6 separate regions of the Homo sapiens genome follow, and all the other regions are linked to region 1. Evidence: fine-mapped expression QTL. A gene starts in region 1. Each other region holds a variant in brackets. All regions are shown on one strand. Distances are from middle to middle.

What was found. PIP is the estimated chance that this variant, and not a neighbour inherited with it, causes the effect. A credible set is the group of variants that fine-mapping cannot tell apart.
Region 2: its variant is the best candidate, but not a certain one, in a credible set for the expression of CAMK1D in whole blood (TOPMed, PIP 0.88).
Region 3: its variant is the best candidate, but not a certain one, in a credible set for the expression of CAMK1D in whole blood (TOPMed, PIP 0.72).
Region 4: its variant is the best candidate, but not a certain one, in a credible set for the expression of CAMK1D in blood mononuclear cells (TOPMed, PIP 0.69).
Region 5: its variant is the best candidate, but not a certain one, in a credible set for the expression of CAMK1D in whole blood (TOPMed, PIP 0.88).
Region 6: its variant is the best candidate, but not a certain one, in a credible set for the expression of CAMK1D in whole blood (TOPMed, PIP 0.62).

What each region holds. Positions count from the first base shown.
Region 1 is chr10:12,347,776-12,351,775 of GRCh38, forward strand. CAMK1D (calcium/calmodulin dependent protein kinase ID) reads left to right here and starts at 1,772. Exons shown (of 11, transcript NM_153498.4): 1 at 1,772-2,135. The coding sequence starts at 2,044. RefSeq lists silencers at 931-1,190, 1,231-1,790, 1,961-2,050 and enhancers at 2,087-2,586, 2,761-2,920.
Region 2 is chr10:12,379,457-12,384,602 of GRCh38, forward strand. All of the region lies in intron 1 of CAMK1D (calcium/calmodulin dependent protein kinase ID), which reads left to right. Among named protein-coding and RNA genes, the nearest start is that of CAMK1D, 32 kb to the left of the region's middle. The variant G/T (reference allele first, on the strand shown) is at 2,289.
Region 3 is chr10:12,276,184-12,281,119 of GRCh38, forward strand. No RefSeq gene overlaps it. Among named protein-coding and RNA genes, the nearest start is that of CAMK1D, 71 kb to the right of the region's middle. The variant C/T (reference allele first, on the strand shown) is at 2,250.
Region 4 is chr10:12,828,973-12,834,118 of GRCh38, forward strand. It overlaps CAMK1D (calcium/calmodulin dependent protein kinase ID), which reads left to right. Exons shown (of 11, transcript NM_153498.4): 11 at 1-5,146. Among named protein-coding and RNA genes, the nearest start is that of MIR548Q, 110 kb to the left of the region's middle. The variant A/G (reference allele first, on the strand shown) is at 2,492.
Region 5 is chr10:12,498,487-12,503,632 of GRCh38, forward strand. The region is part of intron 1 of CAMK1D (calcium/calmodulin dependent protein kinase ID); the gene reads left to right. Among named protein-coding and RNA genes, the nearest start is that of MIR4480, 78 kb to the right of the region's middle. The variant C/T (reference allele first, on the strand shown) is at 2,518.
Region 6 is chr10:12,389,295-12,394,440 of GRCh38, forward strand. The region is part of intron 1 of CAMK1D (calcium/calmodulin dependent protein kinase ID); the gene reads left to right. Among named protein-coding and RNA genes, the nearest start is that of CAMK1D, 42 kb to the left of the region's middle. The variant A/T (reference allele first, on the strand shown) is at 2,231.

The sequences.
Region 1 (4,000 bases):
TAGCAGAGAACCAAATAGGAAAAGAGGAGAAGGAAACACAGTGGGAGGAAGGGAAGGAGAAAGAAAGGACAAGAAGATGCTGACTGTAGGCATGAGAAAGCGACAGTTGGGATCTTAGTTGACTTATGCCCTGGTTCCCACTGTTTGTATTATCTAACCTTTGGCACAAGTAAAATACATGATAGTTTTTCAAATGTTTCTTATTGAAGGGGATGCTGTTTGCCTTGAACTTTGGTAATGTGCCTCAAGTATAAGAGAGGTTCCTTAGTAATTCTTCTCACCCATCCGTGTTGGAAATTGGGTTTGTGGATTTATTCTACATCTAACCGGCAAGTAAATCCCCTCTTTGCTCTTCTCAGTTTGGAAAACCTTAAGCTAACCGTCTTTGAAAGATGGAAACTAGCATGGAGGTCCCAGGAATGGGGATGCCAGGGTGTCGTCTGACCTCTTTAGGGTCAGAGTAGGGGCTGAGGGAGAGCAGCTGGGCTGCCTCCACTTCAGCCAGAGTCAGAACTAGGCACAAGGTGCTGGATGAAGTTTCCTATTCAGGGAGCAGATTTTTTTTTTCCTTTTACAGTGAAATTGGAACAGTCCTGGGAAAATGGGACAGGTGTCCCCAGTCAAGAGACAGAGCTGTTTACCCAACTACGAGGAGAGGCCCTGAGGGAGGCGAAGTGTTGATACCAAGAAATCTAAAATTTTCCGATCAAGAGGTCGCCCCTGCAGGTTGGGGACCAGGGAACTGGAGCACGTGGGCTGCCCTCTGACAGGTGGACACCAGGAGTGGGGCGGGCAGGCCAAAGTACAGCTGGGAGATGGGAGTCCGGAGGGAATTCTCTGGGTTAGTTTTGGCAGTCCATAGGAAAGCAGGTGCCTGCCCCGCAACCCGGACACCCTACTAAGCCAGCCGCGGGTGGGCTCCTCCTTCGAGGGGACTGCGGGGCAGACGATCACTTCTTTCCACTGAGTCTCTGGGAGGAGACAGGGAGATGCCAGAAGGGGCCAAGCGTGAGCCAGGGCAACCAGGCCGGCCAGGCCCGCCGGCCGCTCCAGCCCAGCACCAGGGCGCCCGCGCGGCTGCCAAACACCCCCGGGAGTTTTGCTCGCAAAGGGACCACGAGGCAGCTGCTGGCGCGTCCTGCGCGTACCCGCCCAGAGGCTCCCCGGCTTGCTCCTCGCGGGTCTGTCCCGAAACTGACGTGAAACCGATTTGGTGCAATGCGAATGAGCTCCCGCCCGCCTCCGCCTCCATCCCAGCCGCCGCCGCCGCCCGTCGCCATAACAACCGGCCCCCACCCCCCCCACCCCACGCCTTGCCCCTCGGGTCCCCCGGGCCACAGGCCACAGCGCGGGAAGGCGCCCCGCCCTCGGCGCCCCGCATCCGGCCGCCGCGCACCCCCGCCCGCCCGGCGCTTCCGAGCCACGCAGAGGCGCCCCCTCCCGCCGGAGACGGGAAAGCCCCGGCGCCCCCAGACTGGGCTCCGTTTCCAGCTCCCGGAGGGGCTGGGGCTCTCCCGCGTGCGCCCCGCACCTGCCGGGGGCCCGTACCCGCCCTCGCCGGGGCTCCAGGGGGCACGACGGCCGTGGCCCGGCGCTCTTGGGAGGGGAGCGGGACATCCCCGAAGGCGGCGCGCTGGAGGCGGGGAGCGGCCGGGGCGCACGGAGAGGGCGGGGAGCCCGCGGGAGGGGGAGGAGGGGGAGGAGGGGGAGGAGGCGCGAGGTGGGGGGGAGCGCGGCGGGCGGCAGGGAGGGAGCGGGAGGGAGGCAAGAAAGTAGCAGAAAGTGAGGCTGGCAGGCGGCGGCAAAGGAGCCGGCGCGCGGCGGCGGCAGGAAGTCTGTGCCCGAGAACAGCAGAAATAAGAGCCAGGGAGGGACCGCGGCCGCGGCGGCGGCGGCGAGAGCGAAAGAGGAAACTGCAGAGGAGGAAGCTGCGCCGCAGCCCGAGCCGCCCGGCATCCCCGCCGCCTCTGCGCCCGCGCCGCGCCCCCGGCGCCCCCTCCCCAGCGCGCCCCCGGCCGCTCCTCCGCGCCGCGCTCGTCGGCCATGGCCCGGGAGAACGGCGAGAGCAGCTCCTCCTGGAAAAAGCAAGCTGAAGACATCAAGAAGATCTTCGAGTTCAAAGAGACCCTCGGAACGTAAGTGGGGACCGGGGAGGCGAGGGTGGAGGTGGCCGCGGCAGGGGCTGCACGGGCAGCTCCAGCTGCCGCCGCCGCCACTACCGCGGCAGAAACCCAGCCTGTCACCGCGTCCTCATTGTCCCGTTCTCGGCGCTGCGGAGCCCCCCCGAGCGCGCCCGACGCGTGGGCCTGCGACCCCCGGGTGGGCGCCGTTCCCGGGAGGGGGAGGGGGCAGCGCCGGGCTGTCAGGGAGCAGCCCACGCGGGCGCGCGACTTCCCACTTCTCCTGCCACCGCCGCCCTCTCCGCTGCCTTCTCCCCACGCGTGACTGTGGGCTGAGCATGGTGGGGATGGCTGTTTACCGGCTGTGTGCGTTTACTCGCCGTGTGCATGGGCGCACCGCGTTGGCGAGACGTGGTCACGAGAAGATCAGCCTCCAGTCGTTCCCATTTCTGTCCTTACATCATGTATTTCTATGGAATTGGCATCTGCACGTACGAGGTGTAGGCAAGACTTTGGGTGGCCACGCGAGGATGGAAGGGAAGGGCTTCGCAGTGCTCAGGGTCACACGTGGGCAGAGCCTCACCGGAGGGTCTGTGCATTTCACGCGGGCTCGGCCGCACGCGCCGGGGAGCGCGTCTCCAAGGGAGGGTCTGTGCGCGTCGCTGCGCGGGCGGTGCTCTCTCCGGGCTGCATCGAGTCCCATGCTGATGGCTGTGTCTCAAGAAAGCAGAAATAATCCGAAGTCGATGGCAGGAACGCTCCAAGCATGTGCTGCTCAGCTCAGCTGCTGTTCCCTTTCTGCCCAGGAGTTGGGTCTTGTTTGTTTTGTTTCGGAGCGGCTCAGAATAGGTGGGGAGGCTGATAGTGAAAGAGAATCAGGACCTGCCGAATGAGTCTGAAGTTCAAGTTATTTCCTTCCCTCACACAATCAGTATTTGCTCTGCATCAGTATCTGTCAGTGTGGATTCACGCACAGGTGTGCAGTCAGAAATGCCCATTTTGCAGGGGTTCATGGAGGTGTTGATTAGGCTGGGAAGAGAAAGGGGAGCTATTTCATGGGATAAATCAGTGCGTTGTTGGGTGCCCTTTCTTTCCTTCCTCCTTTTTTTCCGTGTGCTTGTTTTTGTGCTTGGTTTCTTTTTTCCAGCACCACATTACCCAGCTTGTCTTCACCTCCAGGCTCGGCGTCTGCTGCTGTTCAGTCATTTCCCCTCACCCCCACGCAGATCTGCAGGGGGTCCCCCGGAGAGAAGTTGTGAGGGTGGCTTTCCCAGTCCTGCTTCTGATTCCCGGGAAGGCGCACGCTGAGGACTAGAGTGGGGTCTCCCTGCTGTGGTTGTTGCCTTTCAGGGAGGGCACCTATTTGCTATCTTTGTTGGAATGAAAACAGAAAAAGATGTAGCTTTTTAATAAATAGGGGTTTGGGGTTGCCTCTTAGTGCAGCCAGGTAAGGGGTTAGTTTGGGTCAAAACTTTTGAAAATTGCCACTGAGGTTTATTCGGGTTTGGGGTTGTGATTCTGAGATGCTCAAGTTACTGAGAGACAAGAAAGCATGGCCTTTGCTTGTCATCCAGGACCCGCACTGTGGCCGCCAATGAGGAGATGGGAGAGCATGGGGACCCACCCTGTGTGAATGCTTTCCTGTCCGTGGCTTGTTCCCACCCGAGCCCCCCACACTGGCTTCCTGCCTGTAGCCTCCGGGTGACTGATGCCCTGTCCCCTGACTGACTCGTGCAGCTGCACCTCTGCAGTGGCGGGGCTGCTGAGGCTCCAAGCTGTGGCTCCTGCTGGAGCATGGTGTTTGGAGATGACTGTGGGTGGTTTCCACCTTGGGGAAAAATGGGGATTTGCCCTCTGGTGCCAGAGCGCTTCTCTGGCAG
Region 2 (5,146 bases), 32 kb after region 1:
ATCCCTTAATTTGGGGCCAGTCTTGGTGGCTAACGCCTGTAATCCCAGCACTTTGGGATGCTGAGGCCAGTGGATCAACTGAGGTCAGGAGTTCCAGACAAGCCTGGCCAACATGGTGAAACCCTGTCTCTACTAAAAATACAAAAATTAGCCGGGCATGGTGGTGCACATCTGTAATCCCAGCTACTCGGGAGGCTGAGGTAGGAGAATTGCTTGAACCCTGGAGGCGGAGGTTGCAGTGAGCCGAGATCGTGCCACTGCACTGCAGTCTGGGCGGCAAAGCGAAACCTTGTCTCAATCAATCAATTAATCAATGAAAGAAAATAAAATAACTTAATTTGAGGCCAGTTTTTACCATTCAGATTCATGGCCAGATACGACTCTACTCCTGGCTAAATATCTTTCAAAAATGTGCCAGAAAGTGGATGGATCAGTATAAATCTTTTGGGAGGACTTTTAAAAAAAAGGGTGTTGTTGGCCGGGCGCGGTGGCTCACGCCTGTAATACCAGCACTTTGGGAGGCCGAGGCGGGCGGATCATGAGGTCAGGAGATCGAGACCATCCTGCCTAACACGGTGAAACCCCGTCTCTACTAAAAATGCAAAAAAATTAGCCGGGCGTGGTGGCGGGTGACTGTAGTCCCTGCTACTCGGGAGGCTGAGGCAAGAGAATGGTGTGAACCTGGGAGGTGGAGCTTGCAGTGAGCCAAGATGGCACCACTGCACTCCAGCCTGGGTGACAGAGCGAGACTCTATCTCAAAAAAAAAGAAGAGGCATCGCTGATTGATTGAACATCAGGTGAAACCCTTTTTCCTTAGTTCTGAATCTAGCAGAGCAATTATTATGATACTGTCTCACCTTCCAATTAAAAGGATCAATGATTATAAATATGAGAGTAAAGGTTTTTAAGGCTACAAGGAATTCGTCACACTTGGAGCCTAGGTTTTGTAATGATTATTGAGTTTGACAACCCAAAGGAGGCCAAACAAATCCTTCCTTTTATGAAGCTGATAACATAATTGCACTTCAGTTTTTCATGTGATTATTGCCCGGAAAAAAGGGAAGGATTTTTCTTATCATGATGCCACCCAAGTCAATATATGTTTAAGACCATTTCTCAGCTGGGCGCAGTGGCTCATGCCTGTAATCCCAGCACTTTGGGAGGCCAAGGCGGGCGGATCACGAGGTCAGAGATCGAGACCATCCTGGCTAACACGGTGAAACCCCATCTCTACTAAAAACACAAAAAATTAGCCAGGCATGGGGTCACGTGCCTGTAGTCCCAGCTACTCATCAGGCTGAGGCAGGAGAATCGCTTGAACCCATGAGGCGGAGATTGCAGTGAGCTGAGATTGCACCACTGCACTTCAGCCTGGGCAACAGAGCAAGACTCTGTCTCAAAAACAAACAAACAAAAAAACAAACCCCACGCATTTCTCAGTTAATTGAAGGCTCACACATTTAGTAATGATATAATTGGCCTAGTCATTTGTCAGGTTGTTTTTGAGTTAAAATGAATGGTTTGAGGTTGAGATGAAATCAATGAAAAGTATATGCCTGTGTGAAGTAGCTTGTACATTTTTATGACTCTTCCATTTTGATTTAGGTGAAAGCCTGCCTTTTCCCTTTATTGGAAATAAAAAAGGAAGTAGGAATGAAAAGAACTGGTCATGTCTTGAAAATAATAGCAAAAGGAGGTCAGCTTTGTACATACATTGAGCAGTGACAGCGGGCCCCGCCCCTTATAAAGTTGTAGAATGAATGCCGTTCCCTTCCTGGGGTGGTCACAGCTTGACTTGGGTGATTGCTTCTGAATCCTGCAAGGAGAAATCTTGGGTAGTGGTTCTTAAAAAATGTCGGAAGGACTAGAAAATCATAATGCTTTCTTTTTTTTTTTTTTTTTGAGACGGATTCTCCTTCTGTCACTCAGGCTGGAGTGCACGATCTTGGTTCACTCCAACCTCTGCCTCCCAGGTTCAAGCAATTCTCCTGCCTCAGCCTCCTGAGTAGCTGGGATTACAGGCGCATGCCACTGCACCTGGCTAATTTTTGTATTTTTAGTAGAGACGGGTTTCACCTTGTTGGCCAGGCTGGTCTGACCTCAGGTGATCCGCCTGCCTTGGCCTCCCAAAGTGCTGGGATTACAGGTTTGAGCCACTGCACCCAGCCAATTCTCAAGTTTTTTAAAGAAGACAGTGCAAGCTGCTGAGAATTGACGATACAGTCTGAGTTCTCTGACGGTTGTGGCGTGGCATACAGAAGCAGTCCGCGTTCATGTTCGGAGTCTG[G/T]TCAGTGTTCATTGTCTTGCTAATTGGATGATCCCAGATGTGCCAATTAGCTGGTACCAGGGGCATGTTTAATTGGTAGAAATGATGAGTTCGACTGTGCTGTTGCCTGATGAGTTTTCATAGCAGAGACCTGGCGTTTTAGGTGACTTGGTACTATAAAGCAAGAGTAAAACGTTTTAAAAGAAAAAAAAACTGTTTTGCTATATACTCACGACACTTCTGACACTCATTGTGTGGGTTTTTCCACACCAGTCCATTTTCCTTGGAAACTGTGACTTTGAGTGAAATGACGTAACAAAACCACAATTTTTCATTTTTTTATCAGTGTTGTAATGAAATGATATTGAACAAAATGATGATATTCAAGTATGTCATTTTGCTTAAAGTCAATTTCCAAGAACTGACTGGACATTAAGTGGGGACTTGCTGTACCACCTTTTAGGGAGAACAGTTGAACAACAGTTGTCTGAGCTAATATTTGGAATATATTAATGAAAACCATGTTGTAGAATGTGTGCCCAGCCTCTCACTATATAGTCAGCCCCATGGACACCTTTTATCTGTGTCATATCTTGTAATGATAATGTATGTGAAATCCTTATGGTATGCATCACACTTGTTTATACTAGATGATAAGGTACTTGTGGGTGAGCCTGACGCATGTTTTGGTAACTTACATAGGATCTTTCATATGAAATACTCAGAAATAAAGGTGCTATAGTCTGTTTATTATCATACCCAGACATAAAAATGCTAATACTGTTTAGAAAGATTTTAGCTATAAAAGTTTAAAAACCAGGATGGGCATGGTGGCTCACACCTGTAATCTCAGCACTTTGGCAGGCTGAGGTGGGCGGATCACCTGAGGTCAGGAGTTCCAGACCAGTCTGGGCAGCATGGTAAAATCCCATCTCTACTAAAAATACAAAAATTAGCTGGGCGTGGTGGCGGACCTCTGTAATCTGAGCTACTCGGGAGACTGAGGCAGGAGAATCTTTTGAACTCGGGAGGCGGAGGTTGCAGTGAGCTGAGATCGCGCCACTGCACTCCAGCCTGGGCAACAGAGTGAGACTTCATCTCAAACAAACAAACAAACAAACATGACTTCAAGTAATAATAGCACTTTCTGTGTTCCTTCCTAGCACTTTGATTAAATGTGTCGTTTAATCTGTACAACATCCCTGCAAGTAGCAATTTTTTTTTTTTTTTGTAGTTGGCACATGGAAGAGAAATAACTTGTCTGAGGAAGCACAGCTAGTAATGGACAGATCTGGGATTTGAAGCCAGTTCTTCCAAAGTGCACACATTTCCCCTGCACTTCTCTCTATGTATTCTAGCTAACCAAGCTGTTGCTCTAATATAATTTGTTTAGAGCATCAAACCACATAATCCAGGTTTCCGGGTGTAGTTTTTTTATCTGAAGTATTTGGTACTAAATAATTAAATTAGCTAAGTGTCAAATCCCTCTTTGTTTTAGGATTTATAGATTTAAATAAAATTAGAATAGATCTTTCCAATTTTTTTTTTTGTTGTTGTTACTGTAAAGAGCTTTTTGTGGTGGAACTAACTTTGGTGAGCAACAGAATAAGAACTCAGGGAATGTCGAAGCAGGAAAATTGGTACAGAATTTCAGAACATGCTCAGAATAAAGCCTTTCTTTTCAGCAGTAAATTGAGTGACTTGCAACTCGGGGAAATGTCAAATTGACATGAATGTCCATTGCTTGGACTTTATATTAGCAGGTGTTTATTTCACCACAGACATTGGGTTTTATTAAATACGCCCATTTCAAATCTTCTTGAACTTCAGAATTACTCGAGCTTGTTATTTTCTCTTTCTTACCTAGTACAAGCATAAAGAATATTGAAAATCTGTAAGATAACTAAATATTAAGGAAGTTGTGTATTGGGAAATAAGCATACTTAGGTCCTTTTATGAATGGACATAACAGCAAAATAACCTTTTACACAAATAGTTTTAAAAAGTCTACTCACAGAGCTAAAATCACACTTAATGGAGAAAGAATGAACGCTTTACCTTAACTAGCCTCAGGAGCGACACAAGAGTGTCTGCTCTCACCACCCCCATTCAACTTTGTAGTGGAGGTTCTAGCCAGCGTAGTTAGAAAATGAAATAAAAGGTATCCAGATTGTAAAGGAAGAAGTAAAACGATCTCTATTTGCAGATGAGATGATCCTGTAGAGAGAAAATCCTAAGGAATCACCTAGATAACTATTCCATTTAATAAATGAGTTCATCAAGACTGCAAGATCCAAGATCAGTATACAAAAATGAATTATATGTGTATATGCTAGCAAGGAAAAATAAAAAAAGAAATTAAGAGAACAATCTCGTTTATAATATCATCAATAAGAATAAGATATTTAGGAGTAAATTTGACTGAAGAAGTTCAAGCCTTGCACATTGCAAACTACAAAACATCATTGAAAGAAATTAATGAAGACTTAAATAAATGGAAAGACGTCCTGTGTCTATGGATTGGAAGACTTAATGTTGTGGAGATAGCAAAACTCCCCAAATTAATCTATAGATTAAACACAATACCTTTCAAAATCCCAGCTTGCCCTTTCTGCAGAAACTGAGATGGTGATCCTAAAATTCATATGGAAATGCAGGGAACCCAAAATAGCCAAAACAGTCTTGAAAAAGAAGAGCAAAGTTGGATGACTTTAAAAACTTACTACAGAGCTACAGTAATCAAGACAGTGTGGTCCTGGTGTATAGATCAGTGGACTAGAATTGAGAGTCCAGAAATAAACTCTCACATTTATGGTTTATTTTCTTTTGACTGTCTTATTGGTTAAGATAATTCAGTGATGGGAAGAATAGTCTTTTGA
Region 3 (4,936 bases), 71 kb before region 1:
CGTGCCATTGCACTCCAGCCTGGGCAACAAGAGCAAAACTCTGTCTCAAAAACAAAAAAAGTCTGACATGTACTATGTTCGTTGTATGCTATGTTGAATGCCGTGTGAGCCCATGCATTAGCTCATCTAATCCTCACAACTTTAGGATGCAGGTGATAGCATGATCGTTTTTTCAGATGAGGAATTTCCGAGAGCCATTGGTAACACAGCCTGTTAGTGCCAGGGCTGGGCTTCTCACCATGTTTGATTCCCGGTTCTAAACTCGTAACCAAGCTGCCTAATCAGCCTCTGTCTGTTTAGACCTTTAAATTACTGCCTTTTTGTTGTTGTTTTTATTATAATGAACCCTACAAGAAACATCGCATTGTTACGCATAGGCTGTCTGCATTGTAATGTTGTTGACTCTGTAAACAAGTGGGTTCAAGAGTGTGAACATTTTGATGACTGTTGAGGTCTTGTGCCAAAATAACTTTGAAAAGAATTATGCCGATTTACAATATGTAAATTATATTCTCCATTTATATGCTCTCCATCTATAAGGTCCTTCCTTGCCAGTTTTATATATATATGTGTGTGTGTGTATATAGATATATATATGTAGTTTTTTTTTTTTTTTTGAGATGGACTCTCACTCTGTCACCCAGGCTGTAGTGCAGTTGCGTAATCTCAACTTACTGCAAACTCCGCCTCCTGGGTTCCAGTGATTCTCCTGCCTCAGCCTCCTGGGTAGCTGGGACTACAGGCACACGCCGCCATGCCCAGCTAATTTTGTATTTTTAGTAAAGACAGGGTTTCACCATGTTGGCCAGGCTGGTCTCGAACTCTTTTTTTTTTTTTTTTTTTGAGACGGAGTCTCACCCTGTCACCCAGGCTGGAGTGCAGTAGTGCGATTTTGGGTCACTGCAAGCTCCATCTCCCGGGTTCACGCCATTCTCCTGCCTCAGCTTCCCAAGTAGCTGGGACTACAGGCACCTACCACCACGCCTAGCTAATTTTTTGTATTTTTAGTAGAGACAGGGTTTCACCGTGTTAGCCAGGATGGTCTTGATCTCCTGACCTCGTGATCTGCCTGCCTTGGCCTCCCAAAGCGCTGGGATTACAGGCGTGAGCCACCACGCCCAGCTGTAATAGTTATATTAATTTAAAATTTTGTTTGGCTGATTTAGTAGCAAAATGAAAATTTAATATTTTAACTTCTTTTTTGATTAGAAAAATTGAGCCTTGACTAGGTACGGTTACTCACGCCTGTAATCCTAGCACTTTGGGAGGCTGAGGTGGGCAGATCACAAGGTCAGGAGTTCGAGAGCAGCCTGGCCAATATGGTGAAACCCCATCTCTACTAAAAATACAAAAATTAGCCGTGTATGGTGGCGGGTGCCTGTAATCCCAGCTACTCGGGAGGCTGAGGCAGGAGAATCGCTTGAACCCGGGAGGCAGAGGTTGCAGTGAGCTGAGATTGTGCCACTGTACTCTAGCCTAGGCGACAGAGTGAGACTCTGGCTCAAAAAAAAAAAAAAAAAAGAAAAAGAAAAAAGAAAAACTGAGCCTTATTTTATGTATTTGTTTACTGGTTATAGTTCTTTGAATGATAGCTTTATGTCCTTTTCCCATTTTTTCATTAGAGCCTTGTTTTTTCTTTTTCTTTTTTTTTTTTTTGAGACAGGGTCTTGGGCTGTAGCTCAGGCTGGGGTGCAGTGGTGCAATCATGTCTACTGCAGCCTTAACCTCCCAGGCTCAGTGGATCCTTCCACTGCAGCCTTCCCAGTAGCTAGGACCAGAGGCATACGCCATCAGGCCCAGCTAAATTTGCTTTTTTTTTTTTTTTGAGACAGTCTCACTCTGTTGCCCAGGCTGGAGTGCAGTGGCGCGATCACAGCTCACTGCAACCTCCACTTCCTGCATTCAAATGATTCTCGTGTGTCAGTTTCCCAAGTAGCTGGGATTATAGGCGCATGCCACCACGCCGAGCTCATTTTTTTGTATTTTTAGTAGAGACAGGGTTTTACCATGTTGGCCATGCTGATCTTGAACTCCTGGCCTCAAATGATCCACCCACCTTGGCCTCCAAAAGTGCTGGGATTACAGGTGGGAGCCACCGTGCCTGGCCCACTGGAGATAGAGTTTCGCTCTTGGCATCCAGGCTGGAGTGCAATGGTGCGATCTTGGCTCACTGCAATCTCTGCCTCCCAGGTTCAAGCAATTCTCCTGCGTCAGCCTCCTGAGTAGCTGGGATTACAGGTGTGTGCCAC[C/T]ACGCCCAACTAATTTTTGTACTTTTAGTAGAGATGGGTTTTCACCATGTTGGCCAGGCTGGTCTCAAACTTTTGACCTCAGGTGATTGGCCCACCTCGGACTCCCAAAGTGATAGGATTACAGGCATGAGCCACCATGACCGGCCTGGAGACAGTTTTAAAAAACCAATTAATAAGGATTTTTCTCATGTAATGAAGATATTAATGCTGTGGTCAGATTTGGTACAAATATTTTTCCTGGTCAGTTTGCATTTTAATAGTTTGATTTTTTATTTTTGACATTTTTAAAAGTTCATATAGTCAGATACACCACTTTTTTCTTTTTTTTCTTTTTTCTTTTTTTTTTGAGATGGAGTCTCACTCTGTTGCCCAGGCTGGAGTGCAGTGGCATGATCTTGGCTCACTGCAACCTCCGCCTCCTGAGTTCAAGCGATTCTCCTTCCTCAGCCTTCTGAGTAGCTGGGATTACAGGCATGCGCCACCACACCTGGCTAATTTTTGTATTTTTTAGTAGAGATGGGGTTTCGCCATTTGGCCAGGCTGATCTTGAACTCCTGACCTCAAGTGATCTGCCCGCCTCGGCCTCCAAGAATGCTGGGATTACAGACGTGAGCCACTGCTGCAATCGTAGCTCACCGTAGCCTCAACCTCCCAGGCTCAAGTGATCCTCCCACCTCAGCCTCCTGAGTAGCTGGAACTACAGGTGTGCACCGCCACACCCAGCTGATTTTTCTGTTTTGTGTAGAGATGGGGTTTTGGCATGTTACCCAGGCTGGTCTGGAATTCCTGGCCTCAAACGATCTGTCTGCCTTGGCCTTCCAAAGTGCTGGGATTACAGGTGTGAGCCTGTAATTACCGGCCCTAATTTTTTATTTTATTTTTTTTCCTGCCTCTGTGTCCCCCTACTCTTTCTAGTTGGTTAAAAAATACTGCTATAAGTGTATATTGATGTTTGCTGTTGCGTCTATGCCGAACATACTTAAGGCTGTTTCGTAACCAGCACAATCCGTGTCTCACACTATCCAGCCTTTCATCATCTCCCCACCACCCACTCACGCCTCCACCGGCTCTAGTGTGGATTCCATCCCAGTTACACCAACAAAACAGCTCTTGCTCTCTCTTGACTCGCTATTGGCCTTTCTCTTCTTTAGTGGATATTTCTCAAATGCATTTTTTTTTTTTTTTTTTCTGAGACGGAGTTTCACTCTTGTTGCCCAGGCTGGAATGCAGTGGCGTGATCTCGGCTCACTGTAACCTCCACCTTCCAGTTTCAAGTGGTTCTCCTGCCTCAGCCTCCCACGTAGCTGGAGTACAGGCACCTGCCACAATGTCCAGCTAATTTTTGTGTTTTTAGTAGAGACCGGGTTTCACCATGTTGGCCAGCCTGGTCTCGATCTCCTGACCTCGTGATCTGCCTGCCTTGGCCTCCCAAAGTGCTGGGATTACAGTGGTGAGCCATAGCACCTGGCCTAGAATGCATCTTAATTGAAGTATTGGAAGAGTTCAGGCCTTTTGTCAACATCCACCTTCCTATAAATCTCCCCAAGACAGGACTCACAGCTTAATGAGGAGCTTCTTGCAAAATACATACAAAGCTGGCCTTCTAGCTGGTTGAAGGGCTTGGTTAAATTGAGCGCAACACTAAGCCTAGGAGTGAAGAAACGACATAGGCAGGCTGGGCGCGGTGGCTCACACCTGTAATCCCAGCACTTTGGGAGGCCAAGGTGGGCGGATCATGAGGTCAAGAGTTTGAGACCATCCTGGCTAACATGGTGAAACCCTGTCTCTACTAAAAATACAAAAAATTAGCTGGGCGTGGTGGCGGGCACCTGTAGTCCCAGCTACTCAGGAGGCTGAGGCAGGAGAATGGCATGAACCCAGGAGGCGGAGCCTGCAGCGAGCTCTGATGGCACCACTGCACTCCAGCCTGGGCGACAGAGCGAGACTCCATCTCAAAAAAAAGAAAAAAGAAAAAAAGAAAAGACATAGGCAATTCTTTCTTTGTACTCTTTTCCAGTACTTAAAAAAAAGAGGTATAATTTTTGTACAATAAAATGCACGGATGTCAAGTGTACAGTTGGATGAGTTTTGACGTCTGTGTACACCTGTGTAATCAGCTGCCCAGTCCAGATAAAGAACATTCCCATCAACCCAGAAAGTTTCTTCATACCCATTTCTAGTGAATTTTTCCCAGCAGAGGCAACCACTGTTCTGAATTCTATCACAATATTTTAGTTTTGCCTGTTTTAGAATATTACAGATGTACAATCATTTAGTATTTACTTTTTTGTGTCTGGCATCTTTTCTCAACATAATAATTTTGAGATTTATGCATGTTATTGCATGTTTTTCTTTTTTATTGCTAAATAGTATTCTAATATATCAACTTTTTTTTTTTTTTTTTTTTTTTTTTTAGAGACAGAGTCTTGCTCTGTCACCCAGTCTGGAGTGCAGTGGCACCATCTTGGCTCATGCATCCTCTGCTTCCCAGGTTCAAGTGATTCTCCTGCCTCAGCCTCCCGAGTAGCTGGGATTACAGGTGTGTACCACCACACTCTGCAAATTTTTGTATTTTTAGTAGAGATGGGGTTTCTCTGTGTTGGCTAGGCTGGTCTTGAACCCCTGACCTCAGGTGATCCACCCTCCTTGGCTCCCAAAGTGTTGGGGTTATAGGTGTGAGCCACTAC
Region 4 (5,146 bases), 480 kb after region 1:
CCACCTTGCATGGTGCCCCTTCCTGCATAGGACTGGAAGACCGAAGTTTTTTTATGGCCATATTTTCTACTGCAATTCTGAAGTGTTCATTTCTCACAAACTGTACTGACTCGAGGGGCGCTGATTTCATAGGATCTGGTGCTGTATATACGAATCTTGCAAAGCTCTAACTGAACGGACCTTCTTATTCCTCTCCCCTAACACCATCGTTTCCACTCTTCTCAGTGTAGGTAACCGTCTATGGTGTGTTTTTTCATTAATGACAAAAAAAAAAAGGTTTCAACTGGATTATTTAAATATTGGTAAATATTGTGCATTAGGGTTTGTTTTTCCTTTTAAGAAGTATGTCCTTTGTATCTCTAAGTTACATGACCTATATCTTTTCCTCTTTAATAGTAGTTTTATGTTAACCTTTAAGAGATTTGTTTTTCCTCAAAGGAGAATTTAAAGGTATTTTTTAAAATTCTAATAAGAGGATCAGCCGGGTGCAATGACTCATGCCTGTAATCCCAGCACGTTGGGAGGCCAAGTCGGGCGGATCACAAGGTCAGGAGATCAAGGCCATCCTGGCCAACATGGTGAAACCCCACGTCTACTAAAAATACAAAAAATTAGCCGGGCGTGGTGGCACACACCTGTAGTCCCGGCTACTCGGGAGGCTGAGGCAGGAGAATTGCTTGAACCCGGGAGACGGAGGTTGCAGTGAGCTGAGATCGTGCCACTGCACTCCAGCCTGGGTGACAGAGCAAGACTCTGTCTCAAAAAAAAAAAAAAAAATTCTAACAAGAGGATCATGAATCTGTCTCCAAGGCTAAGAGTGCCCTTCACCTCTACTCCTTCTGTTTCTCTCCCCTTCCCCAGGAGGAGGGGCCCCTCAGTTCTGCGAGGCTCTCTTCTCTGCGGGGGACTTTGGTAGAGAATCTGCACAGAGCCTTTGCTGGCAACCCATCCAGCAGAACCCACACCCACCAGAGACCCTAGAGGCCTCTTGCCATCAGCAACCAGAAATAAGCCTGCTCCCCCGAGACGCAGGGCTCAGCTTCACAGGCCAGACTTGCTGTGAGTGAGATGCCCACACTGCAGAGATGCAGGACCCTCCCTTGCAAAAGGAACCAGCTGCCATGTTGCTGAAAGTGGGCCCACACACAACCCTCATTTCTCACGAGAGCTAACAGATGAAAGCTCAGCTATGCAGTGTTAAAATTCATCTCTTTCTCTGTGGTTTTTAAAAAAATGCATTTCTAATCTTACACTTCACGTGGCCTCCAACACAAAGTTCTTTCTCCACATTTTTACCCTCTTCTCACATGAATGTTTTCCAAGGGAAGGAAGGGAGGGAAGCAGCCTTGGGAAAGGATCCATTTCTGGTGGTAAGGAGAGGGGGCCCTGCCAGGCTAATGGGACTTCAGCCACCACAGAGATGACCAAAGACCACCTCCGCCAGGCCCAGCCAGTGCTTGCAGCCCTCCCATTGGTCAGGGGAGTCTAAAATCAAAGATACATGGTGGTAGGGTCACCAAACGTCCCATTTGCCCGAGACTGAAGGATTTCTCAGGCTGTGGACATTTAATGCCAAAACCAGGAATATCCGGGGCAAAGCAGGCTGTGTTGTTCGCCTTTGTGGAGCCAGGCAGTGTGTGGCCCAGGGAAAGCTGCGTTTCATGGAGGCTTCCAGGAGGCTGCCCTGTAAAGCCAGGCAGGTGGCTTCAAGTGCCATTCCTGCAAGTGCCCCTGCTTCAGCTCTCAGGCCCATCCAATGCCTCGAGCCCACGGGGGTGTCCCGGCAGGTCTGCGTCATCACGACCCAGTAACGCTGCTGGCTGTGTCCTCATGCCCTCTTCCTCTGGCTGGCCAGTCATGGGAAGTCCTGTTGGTTGAGTCATCTTTGTCACTTCTACACCTTTGAGTATGTACAGGCTGAATGTTGAGTGATGCCCCCCCACCCTCTCAATAAACACACACACACACACACACACACACACACACACACACAATGTTATTAGGCACAGCAGCTCCATCCTGCTCCCTGAGAATGGCAGTGCAGGCACAGAGAAGAGCAGTTGGGAAGACAGGCAGCTGGTCTACCCTGTCCCCGCACACTTCACAGGCACTCCACTGCTTGGCAGGAATTCTGCATGGCATCTGCCACGCATGCTCACAGGGTGAAAAATCAAGCTGTCACTCTGCAAAATCTAAAAACCCTGGAAAGGTCTATAAGATGACATTAGACCCAGTTAAGAAGCAAGTGTCACCTGAGTTGGCCATGCAATGAATGAATATTATAAGCAGTATTGGAGAACTAGGCGGTTGCTTACTAAGAAGTGTCTTGGAAACATTCGAGTTCATACAGTGCATGACAAAGTAATAGAAGGCTGCAAGCGCTGAAAATGCACCCGAATCTGGTACCTAGGATGAGTACATGAATAGTGATGAATAGCCCTTTGTGCTGTGTGCTATATACAACCATTTGCATTCAGAAAGCAGCATTTGA[A/G]GCTGAGTTCCATTACTGGTGATTGAAGTATTTTCAGGAGCAGATACATGTGGTGCATGTTATATGCACTTAGTTTGAAAGTATCCCTCACCCAAAAAGTGCAGAACCTCTGAAAGGTGAGCCGTGGTGCAGGTGCCCCCCTCGCTGTTCGGGTCAGTTCTTGGCCATGCTTGGCCTGTCACACGCCGGGTCTCAACAACATCGTGCGAGGAGACAGTGACTGGTTTCAGCCCAAGAGTCAACTGTTGAGCATGACATCAGGAAGCCTGTACTGTCCTGATCCCACCAGGCTTGGGTTAATTTCCTATTGCTTCAGAGAAAGAGAGGCGCTCTTGTGCTTTTGAGAGAGCTCTCATGTTAAAAAGAGGTTGTCTTTGCACTGCGCTTGGTATGATTTGTTTTCTTATAAAACAGGAAGAGAACCTAGAATGTGCCTTTCGTGAAGGTCTGACAAATGGGGTCTCAGAGTCCTAGGACCCGCACCAAGGTCAGAGTCCACCTGTAGAGGCTGAGCATTTCTACATGCACCCAGGGTGCTGGGCTGAGGCTAAGGGTGGACGCGTAGACCCCATCACAGGCTTCCTTCCTGAGCCCAAGTCCCCCATTTGGTCACTATCCCTTCTCAGAGCAAGTGGATTCTCTTTTCCTCACTTGGAGTATTCAATGTTGAAGTAGTGGCCTGGAGTGGCCTTTCCCTCAGCTGCCTGTCTGGGCTCCCTGGCTTCCCGGATCTTCATCTCATACGTGAGGCAATAGGAGGAGTTTCTATTCATTGAGACAAACAGTGAGCGGGCACCAACAGGCCAGCAGCTTGGCCCTTTTCACAGAGGTGGCCTTGGAGTCTGGAGTCTGGGCAGCTGTCTGCCTCTCTACGGCTCTGCTTCCCAGCGGGCACACGGGTCCGGAGCCTCAGAATGAAGTGGTGCAGAGGCGCAGGGCACACCTAGGAGAAGCTCAATGACCACCAAAGCCCTTGAGGAGAGACGGGGTTTGCTGTGTTAGAGAAATGGCAACCCCCAGGACCATGCACGGCTCTGGCAGTGCACAGTGGCTGATTTTCACCAGTTCCTCCTACCCCTGCCTCTGTCGGAGACTAGAAAACATTCTACCCCTTCAGGTCTTCTTTTAAAAGAAAAGAGCTATGGCAAAGCGTGCCATACAAAGTTAAAAAAAGGAAGAGTGGCTTTGCGTTCTTGACCATGGCCACAATTCTGGTCACTTCTAGCATCTGACCTTGAGAACGGTGTAGAGTCTCTGAGCCACCGCTGGCCTTTGAGAGAGTCTCACTCTCCAGCTAGCTCTTTGTGTAGTGTCCAGGGCCCCGGCAGTCAGGATAGAGCGAGCAAAAGAAGATGGACAGTGGACAGGGCGCAGTGGCTCACGCCTGTAATCCCAGCGCTTTGGGAGAGCGAGGCGGGCAGATCACAAGGTCAAGAGATCAAGACCATTCTGGCCAACATGGTGAAACCCTGTTTCTACTAAAAATACAAAAATTAGCTGGGCATGGTGGTGCGTGCCTGTAATCCCAGCTACTCGGGAGGCTGAGGCAGGAGAATCGCTTGAACCCGGGAGGCAGAGGTTGCAGTGAGCCGAGATCGTGCCACTGCACTCCAGCCTGGGTGACAGAGCAAGACTCCGTCTCAAAAAAGATGGCCATGCTGGCCAAGGCTGGGCTCATAGGAAATATCTGTAGTAGGATGAAAGGAATCTGGCCTAGGGAGCCCCGGACTCGGTTTACCTACCCCGTACTCATCCCACTCATCTGTCTACCCTAGTGTCCATCATGCCCTGGATGAATCGTAGGTGGGAGGGACAGAAGCCGAGAACACCAGGCACACGGGGTGGGGGGAATGGGGGGAGCCCAGGTGATCCCCTTTGGAAAGTGGATTGATCCTCTCCCCTGTGGAATGACAGCTTAACCTGATTAACCCACTGGGGCTTGCTATTTTATGAGCATTTTTAAACAGAAAGGAAAGATGATATCCCAGTGCAGGTAGACTTTATTTTTGAAAGCATCGTGGCCCCTCACCTCTCCCTCTCCCCCAGAACCTTGGCCAGAATTGAGTCTTCGCGTTGGGGAGGCCACGCTGGAACCATTGCTCTAGGGCTGAAGGTGGAAGTAGGGCCACTGCCGCAGCTTCAGCCAGAGCCCTCGCTGCTTCGCAGAATTTAACAAGCACACGACTGGGATTCCTTTGGATATGAGAAAGGAAGGCAAGTGCGGGCAAAGGGAAGCTCCTCCCGTTTTTCATAAACAGAAGTAAGATGTCCTCTTTCCCAGGTTTGCACAATCACTTCTGGCAAATTAATTGAAGGTCCTTGAATTCAGCCAGTGCACGAAACCTTTGCATGTTCTTCTGAAACTGTACTTCTTCCCTATTCTGTCTACCCACACTCTGCGAACTTTGCCTTTTCCTTAAACACATTCCAGACCAAACACTGTTCAGTTTGTTAAAAAAAAAAAAAAAAAAAAAAGATGTATATACCTGTATGTGATCCACCACCCTTTTGAGGGGCACCTGGTCCTCGGTTGGGGCTGCAGGTGTGCCTGACATTTGCAAAAGATATTCCAGTCTTTCGATGTTCAGAATTGAAAATGTGGAGATAGAAAAGCTCAAACAGACTCCTAAAAGGAGGGTTTCTTTCCTGAAGACT
Region 5 (5,146 bases), 150 kb after region 1:
TGAGATATGGCTGAATCCCATATCCACTGATGTGTTTGATTTTCAGCCTGGATAAAGGCTGGATTCTAAAGAAAAGGAGGAACACTTCAGGAAGCGTTGAGTTAGTTCTCATCACTGGATGTCATCAGGGAGGGGCTAGGCCACAGCTGCTTGAAGAGTGGAGATGAAACTGAAAAGAAACTCTGGCTTCCAGAGGGAGTTGGGTTGTGGGGAGTGACGGGGAAGCAGACCTCCAAGGTGAGAGAGGATGGCAAAGTAGCCGATCTTCAGACCTTGGGGCCCCAAGACATCATCACAGTCATTGTTGCCATGAACTCCCTACTTCTTTACATTCAAACTTGTTGGGGGTTCAATTTAGTACTTTGCAGATGAAGAGGTAATGAAGAGAAGCAATAATAATATTGCCTTGCTTTGTCTATAGAGCTGTTTCTTCCATAGAATGTCATCTAATTAAGGATTTCTGTTCATTTACACAATAGAATTTAGGTAGCAGTTTTAGCAGTGGATAAAACAAGGCGTAGATTGCAAATGCCTTCCCCTGGGTCATACCTGAAATCTACTCTCTTGGCTTGTAAATTACAGCTTTTTTTTTTTTTTTTTGCATCGATATTGAACTTAGTGCTTTAAAATCATATATGCTGTTTGCTGATTAATGAGCTAGAAGCAAGAGGAATGGAAATGAGACCAGGAAAATAAAGGCTTCCTGGGCAGTTCTTTCCTATGTGGTTTTTTTCTTACCAATCTCAGTACTCAGAGGCTGAACTGATGAGGTCACTTAGTAACCTTAGTAAGATGCAAATGGACGGTCCTGGGTCTCATTTCATTGCCAGGAGCAGATCCCTCTTTTCTCATTCTGGTAAGAATCCTGCTTTGTCTCTGCTGCCCACAATCCATATCTGCATGCATATTTCATGATTTTCTTACCTTCCAGTTCCTTCTGAAAAAAAAATCAAATGAAAAAAGAAAGATGTGTCAGAACCGAAGGCAGAAATAAACACTTTGATGTGGTTGGCCCTGAGGCATTAGGATTGATTTCCCCCCAGATCCGAATCCCTTCCAAGGAGGCTCAGTGTCTGGGAGGTGGCACACACAGGATTTTATGATAGGATTTGGCTGGAAGCACACAAAGGAAGGCTATTTTTCTGCTCTTCTTCAACACAAGTGCTTGAGAGAGAGGGATTTTCACTTTAGAGCAGACCAGGCAGTGAAGAACAAGGTCATTGGTTGGTTGTCTGCCCTTAGCTGCTTTGAGGAAAGTCTTTCACAAGAGATTGGTGGGAGTTAGCAGCCCCGTTACATAACAGGGTGTCTCTGCCAAGCAGAGTTCTGGAACCTCACCATAGCTCTGGGGGAGACTGACACTGGCCATGGTCTATTCAAGGAGAGGGAATGACAGGAAGAGGAGCCGTCCACGGATCATTTAGGACCATGACAGCACCAGGATGCTCCAAGAAGGCATAGTCTTTGGGTCTGTGGAGTATAGAAGAAAGCTGTCTGGACCACATTTGGTGGCTCATGCCTGTAATCCCAGCACTTTGGGAGGCCGAGGTGGGCAGATCACTTGAGGTCAGGAGTTCGAGACCAGCCTGGTCAACATGCTGAAACCCTGTCTCTACTAAAAATACAAAAATTAGCTGGGCGTAGTGGAGGGTGCCTGTAATCCCAGCTACTTGGGAGGCTGAGGCAAGAGAATCGCTTGAACCTGGAAGGTGGAGGTTGCAGTGAGCTGAGATTGTGCCACTGTACTCCAGCCTGGGCAATAAGAGCAAGACTCTGTTTCAAAAACACAAAACAAAAACAAAAACAAAACCCACAAAAAACGCTGTCTGACTTCTTTCTTTGTCTCCTGGGTCAGAATTAGTCACTTTGGGGACCTGTCCAGGGCTTGGCTTACCTCTTCTTAGACCTCACTGAGCCCAGAGGTCAGTGAGACATAGCATTGCCCAGGGTTAATCTGCTCTGGTGGTGTCAGGGAGCCAGCACCAGGAACCTTTCCCTGCGGGCATGGAGGGGCCTTTGCTGCCATTGCCAGGGCTGGGTGTCATGCCATTCCAGAGATTGAGAATTCTACTGGAAAAGTAAGAAGTTGAGGTATACAGTAGAAAAGATCAGATTATGAAGCCTGACCCCACCCTTTGCCTTGTGACCTTGGACGAGTTGCTGAACCTTTCTGGGCTTCAGTTTAGATAAGATTATCCAGCTAAAGAGGCTTGGGCATTCTGCCAATTTGTCCTTGAATCAACCTCCTTTTTATTAGACATGAAGTGTGGATTCTTTGCAAGGGACTTAGCAGTGAAGTACACAGGTATGTTGTACACCTCTTACTTGTTGATTAAAAATGACATGATCAAATTCTCTTGTTAGCATGAAGAAGAGGAAACTGTGCTGTTATTAACTGCCTATTGTGTGAACACTTTCGCATAGATTGCTTCAGTGCAGCCTCACAATCACCTCCTGTGGTTGGTGTTATATTTCCTCTTACAGATGAGGAAAGTGAAGCTTCCAGAGGCAACGTGC[C/T]AAAGACCTCTGGGCTAATCATGGGTATATCTGGCACCCAGATCCCTGTCCACCGGACTCCAAAATCCATCCCCTTTCCCGTACTCCACCTCGCCCTCAACTCACTCCATTCTGCTCACAAAGCAATGATGGAAAACACAGGGAAAATGGAACTTGGTAGTCCCAGCCTAAGTGGGTTGTAGCAATTTCCTGTTTATTTTAGTTTTCTTTTTCTTTTTCCTATAAATAGTGCCCTGGGGGCAGAATTTACTTAGTCTTCACATTTTTATTGAGCCCTTGTATATTCAGAGCACTGTGCACTGGCTGAAACTCACTAAGAGCTGCAGAGATTGAGAAGTTCTGATGCTAGTTTATCATCTGGTGAGGGGCGAGGGGGACTTTAGGTGTGTGGAAGCCTCTGCTTACCTGGGGCGTGAGTGCGTGTGCTCAGCGCTGTTCTGCCGGATTGCCATGTCATGGGCCTCACCATGTGCTCATTCCTGTGTTCATTCCTTTCAGGTATTTACATAGTGTCTGTTGTATGCACGGCTCTGTGCTAGGGGCTCGGAGGAAATAAAAAGAAATGAAGAATGTGGACTCTGTTCACCAGGAATTCCTGGCTTATCTGCGGAGATACGCATATTCCAGCAGTTCTCGACTGAGAGTGATTTTTTTTCCCGCCAGGGGACATTTGGTGACATCTGGAAACATTTGGGGGTTGTGTGTGCCGCTTCTAGTGTCTGTGGGCGGAGATCGAGGATGCTGTTAAACATCCCTTAATGCACAGCACAGCCTCCCCACCCTAAAGTATTATACAGCCTGAGTGTCAGGGGTGCTTGGGTTAAGAACCCTGGTATGTCTCAAGGGTGTGGTCCCCAAAAGCCATTTGATGCTTTTGGAGTGGTGTGTGCAGTTGGTGAGCAGTGCTGCTGTGACCTCCATGGAGGGGAGCTGGCGGCAGAGTGGAGTGCTCAGAGCTGCAGGCCCTAGGGAGAGTAGGGGAAGCCTGGACTGTGCTGAGCTGGGATAGAACTGAGGCAGCTGCAGGGAGGGCAGGCAGCCACCAGGGCAGGCAGCCACCAGGGCAGGCACAGGCTCAGGGTCAGGAACGAGTGTGGAGCTGGTGGCACGGTGAGGAGGACCTGTCATAGGGCGGAGGCTCTGTGCCGGGAGCAGCAGGCAGTCTGGACCGAAGGAATGAGAGACATCGCAGACCGTGGGCTGAGTGATGCTGTGATGGATGCAGAGCTTTAGGAAGGTATTCAATGGTGCTGGGCAAGATGGGGCAGAGAAAGGCCAGTCCAACGGAAGGAGAACCCAGCCAGGGAATGGAAAATCAGGCGGTGATGTACCGTGCAAGCTGGAGGGAGCATTGCCAATCCTGGCCTGTTTCTCAGGTTACCAGTGAGAAAATCAGGTGTAGGGCGATGAGGCGTCTTGGCTTGTGGGCAGCGCTGGGTTCAAGGCAGGTCCTCGGCCGCAGGACCTGGCCTCTACTGACCAGCATCCCATGGGAAACCTCAGCCTGTCCTCTCAGCAGCCCCGCAAGGCAGACACCATCATTTACCTCCACCATACAGAGGAGGGGACACACACTGTCACACACACTTCACCTGCCCCAGGCCTTGTTCTGGAAGTAGCAGTGCCAGGCTTTAGCCCGGGCCCTCGGACACCAGGATGCTTGCTCTTTAGCCATGGCCACTCTCGTTCCAGGTATAAGGCTGGTCAGCCTGCCCAGGGCTGGCAGTGGGGGCGTGGAGAGAGGGTGAAGGCAGAGCGCTGGGAAGGAGGTGTGTGTAGGACCCGGTGCCTGGCTGGGACTTGAGTCCCATGGTGTGCCTGCGACCCTGGAAGGTGTGTTACTTGCCATGCTCATTTTCTCCTTGGAGCCCATCTTCACTGCAGGGTGCAGTTCACTGCCTTTGCCAGTCCAGTGTTGCCTTCGCAATGGTGGCGTCTCCACGTTCTCCCCATTGGCACAGGCTTCATCAGTTGTGCACTGTTGCCCCTTCAGGCTGTTCGCATGCACGCGTGTATATATGCATGTGTGTGTGTGTGCATGTGTGTATACTTGTGTATACGTGTATGTATATGTGCATACATGTGCTTATGTATGCAAGCATGTACCTACGTGTGTACACATATACATGTGCACACATAGGTGAATATATGCATGTGCATGTGTGTATATGTGTATATATGTACGTGTGGGTGCATATATGTATGTGGGTAGACGTATAAGTCTGTGTGTGTTGTGTGTGTGCACTTGTGCCGCTGGGATTTTGGGAGGAGCATTTGCTCCTCGCCCCGCCTGATGTGGCCAGGTGGCTGCGTGTAGTGTATTTAAATGCGTTCAACGACATGAGTGAACGTAAAACAACTCCTGGGTACCAGGTTTACAGTTGAGAAGCAGGTCCCCTCTTGGCGTGTGTCACAGCTGTCTGGCAGCCTGGGCTACTTTTAACAAGGGAGGAGAGAGCAGGTGAGGCGAAGAGGCCAGAAGAAGGGAGAGCAGAGAGGGGGGCCTGTGAGAGAGAAGGGAGTGGGCAAGAGCGGGCTCCCAGGGAGAGGGGCGGGACGTTTGTGAGTGGAGATCTTATCACAGAAAATTCAGGTTGGGCCAGACCTAGCCAGCTGACTCCACCCTTTA
Region 6 (5,146 bases), 42 kb after region 1:
AGACCAAGGCTCATGTTCTGCCCATTGCTCTTGGGACAGGCTCTTTGGGACATCAAGGATTCTGGGACCATCCCGACACTGCTCTCCTTGGGGTGCGTGGCCAGAGGTGTCTTCAGGCTTCAAGGAGAGGTGCTCAGTGCAGGAGACTCAGCTTCTGCCCAGCACCACAGGGTCGAGGGCTTGGAGCATCCAGGTGGTTTCATCCAGGCCTGAGTGAGAACGTGACCTAGTTACTGTGCCTCTCTGCACGTTGGCAGAATAAACAGACCTTGCTTCCTTCCCTACTCACAGCAAGCAGAATTCTGCTGAGCCTCTCGGAGGCTGGAGGGCCGGTTTTAGTAACGTGCCCTTTCCTGGTTGGCGACCGTCCAGTTATTTTGGGTGAATGTTAATGGCCGTGAGTTTGAAAGTTGTAGTTAGATGAAAACGCCCTCTCTGGACACAGTGTCCTTGTCACCTACTGTCTGAAGGTGCTTCCTTTTTGGGGAATAGGATTGAGAGCAAAATGGTCACAAAATCTGTGGCTTTGGATTGTCATTTGATTTTTTTTTTTTGATGCCTTCTGTCTGCATTTAGGTCAGTGGAAGGGATGAATTCATCATAGGCACTTGTAGTAGAACATCTCCTTGAGCCTCAAAGAGAAGGCTATTTTTCCTGTGGGTCATCTTTGTGCTGTGCATGGGAGGTCCTGCCCCATGGGGCAAGGTGAGTTTAACTTTTGGAGGTGGCTGGTGATCTTGGGGGGAATTTAATTTGAGGACATGTGCATGACCAATAAACTGTTCTGGAGGAATGAATAGTCCTGTGTCTCCCATATTTTTACCTTTTATAAAGCGCTTGTACTGCACGGTGTCCTTATTCTAGGCTGATGCAAAATTTTCATACTGCATTTGCTAGTGATTTGCACCAGTGGCCGAAGAACTATAAAGTAGTTGTCTCTATTTTTTAAAAATTAAAAAAAAAGATGGGGTCTTGCTCCATTGCCTAGACTGGTCTCAAACTCCTGGCCTCAAGTGATCCTCCTGTCTCAGCTTCCTAATTGCTGGGATTATAGGAACGAGCCACTTTGCTCAACCTTAGTTTCTGTTTTATTCAGAATGGAAGGAATTTCTCATATAAGTAGAATTCTAGAGCTAGAAGAGACATTGTATCTCTAGCTCTGTCTCTGTCTTTATCTCTGTCACTATATCTGTCTCTGCGTCTGTCTCTAAACTGTCTTTATCATCAGGCACAGAAAGTTAAGCCCCATTATTCAAGATCCTACAACTAGTTGAGGGTAGAATAGGGTCCATTGTGCCCAGGCAAAACCCAGGTAAGAGTGCAGGGCCAGGGCTAACCATGAGCTCCGGGACTTGTGCAGCCTGCCTGTTTCCAGTCTGTGTGTTCCCCCTTGGGTCATGTCACGTGGGAGCAGAAGCTTCTAGTCGAACGTGTAAAGGACCCAAGAGGAAAGGGGAGCCCAGAAGGGTTGAGGGACTTGCCTGAGATCACACAGCTAGTGAGCGAGTCACCTATCCAAGCCTGGAATACGGGTCCAGCTGTCCCCACGGAGCCATCCTTCTGGCCCACTAGATTCAGAATGAACTCAGGCTCAAGCGTGCGTGAATAAGAGGATGCTGTGCATAGTCCTGACTTTATGAATCAACTTGATGAGATTCTGTGTGGGGTCAACTAATGTGCTCAGAGTCCAGCATTGAGTGAGTAGGAGGTGGGAAGGGGTCCAAGCTCAGTTCTGGCAAAAACTCCAGAGCTCAGTGTTGGGCCAACACTGTCTTCTCTCGTGAATGAGGAAAACCCTTTCTCAGGCCATGATACGTTGGTATCTCAGTCTTTTGGCCATGAAGGGTAGAGGGGAAAGATTGAACTTTTAAGATCTTTGCCTGGATTCTTGTTATTCTCAATACAAAATAAAATACTTTAACTTCAAGCTCGTGTGGGGCCCTGGGAACAAGCTGTAGGTGTGCGCTTTTTTTTCTCTGATTAAATTGGAATCACTATGTAAATTAACTTTCCAGGGGATTGTCTGTGGGAATTCCTAAAGCAGTCTTAGGTCGGTATGACACGTGAAGAAAATACATCAAGCAATCAATCTTAGAAGCTTATCTTCTATTCAGGGTTTCCACAGGAAGGCAGTTTCACCCCAGCTGGGATCACCGGTTGCTTTTCACATTCTTAATTCTTTTGCCAATTTTCCAGATGCCTGTGGAAATTCATGCTGACCGTTTTTTTT[A/T]AAAAAAATTCCATTTTAAGTACTGAATATTTTCCTGTCACTACTTAAACTGGCATGAATAAAATATTCCCTTTCGGGAGGATGATTTTCAAATGTTTCTTAAAGAAAAACAAAACACCCTAGTCGGTTAAATTTAGGAGGTCTGTTAAAATGTCCTTACAGTACCAGCAGGTGAATTTGAGAATAAGAATTCTATCTTCCTCACAGTGCCATATACAGTGCACTGTAATGGCAAGCATAAGGAAATTAGGAAGACTAGAACCGAATCATCCAGGACTCAAAATAGAGTTTCTCCCTCAGAACAATCTGGGGTATCTATACTAAATTTATGGGATAGTTACTGTCATTAACAGCTCATATAACTGAAAATGGTGAAATGATTTGAAAATCAGATAAATGGTAATTGCACCACTGCACTCCAGCCTGGATAGCAGAGCGAGACTTGTCTTAAAACACACACACACACACACACACACACACACACACACACACAAACAGTCTGGGTATGGTGGCTCACACCTATAATCCTAGCACTTTGGGAGGCCAAGGTGGTGGATCACCTGTGGTCAGGAGTTCGAGACCAGCCTGACCAACATGGTGAAACTCCGTTTCTACTAAACATACAAAATTAGCCGGGTGCAGTGGTGTGCACCTTTAATCCCAGCTACTCGGGAGGCTGAGGCAGGAGAATCACTGGAACCCAGGAGGTGGAGGCTGCAGTGAGCCGAGATGGTGCCATTGCACTCCAGCCTGGGTGATACAGCAAGACTCTGTCTCAAAAAAACAAAACAAAATCAAAAATCAAAAACAAAAAACATAACAAAACCCCCACAACTCCTCCTTCCCTCTCCCCCCAGCCCCTGACACCTACCATTCTACTTTGTTCCTGAATTTATCTACTCTAAGGACTTCCCATAAGTAGCATCATACAGTACTTAGCCTGTTGAGATTACCTTATTCTACTCAGCATAATTTCCTTATGGTTCATCTACATTATAGCATTTGTCAGAATTTTCTTCCTTTTTATTTATTATCATGTACCATATGTTATTTGGAAATACGTATACACTGTGGAATGACTAAATTGATCTAGTTAATATATGTATTACTTAACATACTTGTTTTGTAGTGAGAATGCTTAAAATCTACTGTCTTAGCAATTTTTGAGAGCATATACATTGTTATTGAGCATAGTCACTATGTTGTACAATAGATCTCTCGAACTTTTTCCTCCCAGCTGAAATTTTGTATCCTTTGACAAAAGTCTCCCCAACCCCCTGACCCCCAGGCCCAGGTAACCACCATATTACATTCTAGTGAAAAAACAACTTCATTAGAAATTTTGATGAGTTTAAACATAGTAAGCCTCAATTTTTCTTCCAAATTTTCCTAGTTTTGAAAGTATACACACACACAACACACACACACATACCCTGATCTGGACCAGGTTCTTAGCTACAACTGACTGCTCATCGACTGTCATGAATGGATCTGAAACATAACTTTTTTTTTTTTTTTCTTTTTTGAGACACAGTTTTGCTCTGTTGCCCAGGCTGGAGTGCAGTGGTGCAATCTCTGCTCACTCCAAGCTCCGCCTCCCGGGTTCACGCCATTCTCCTGCCTCAGCCTCCCAAGTAGCTGGGACTACAGGCGCCCACCACCATGCCTGGCTAATTTTTTGTATTTTAAGTAGAGATGGGGTTTCACCATGTTAGTCAGGATGGTCTCGATCTCCTGACCTTGTGATCCGCACGCCTCGGCCTCCCAAAGTGCTGAGATTACAGGCGTGAGACACTGCGCCTGGCCTTTTCTTCCTTTTTTAAGGAATACATTTTCTTTTAGCTCCTACTGAATGCAACTCATGGTGCTAGGCTCTCTGAGAGAGGCAAAAACATTTCACTCAAGGAACTCATAGTGTTATGGGTGAAAAGAATGGAAAACACGGCAAGCGTTTTAGATGTGTGTTACCACCATCTGTCCTCCTGACCTCAGTGAGATGGGGTCAGACATTTTAATTTTCTCACCCAGGGACATTCAGCGAATTAAGTGGCTGAGTTGAGCTTCAGGCCCAGCTTTGGGAGACACTCCCTGTATCCTGTAAGCAGAGACCAAATCAATGCTGTGTGAGTTTAGAGATGGAGACACCCAGCCCACCTGGGGGAAGACATGATGGACGCGTGAGCATGTGTCCAAACTTGAGGCATGGGGAAGTGTCCTGCTCTGAAGGTGGGGACGGTGGCTGAGCAGACATGCCGGCCAGAACACTACCCTGAAGATGACAGTGTTGACATCAAGGGCGGGAGGTGAAGGAAAATGGCAGCTTACGCTCCACACCTCACACGTGTGTGGGTTTTTCCTTCTCATTAAGCAGTTCTCCAGTTCTTGGACACCTGTGTGTCCTAGAATTCACCTGTGACACTGACTATGTGCAGGTATTGCAGACCCCCCAGGTTGAGGGCAGTTCCACAAGACCGCTCCCGACACCCCCTCCGCTTCAGACGCCAGTCACAAGTCCTAGGTTGCGGCTCGTGCTTTTGGCCGACTGGCCATCCTTTGAGGGTTCACACCATCCCAACACACGTTTGATCGTTTGCGATAATGGCTCACAGAATCTAGGGAGACACTTATGTTTACAGTTGTATTATGACAAATACAACTCAGGAACAGCCAAATAGAAGAGTTGCATGGGGCGAGGTGTAGGGTGGGGTGAGGTAGCAGGGGAGCGTGCCGTCCTCTCCGGGTGCCCCACCTCCCTCATATCCAGGTGTTCACCAACCAGAAACTCCCCAGACCTCTCCAATTAGGGTTTTTATGGAGATTCCATGATTGATGTAAATCACTGGTCATTGGTGACTGACTCAACCTCCAGTGCCTCTCCCCTTTCTGGACTGGCAAATTCCAACCCTCTCTCATCAC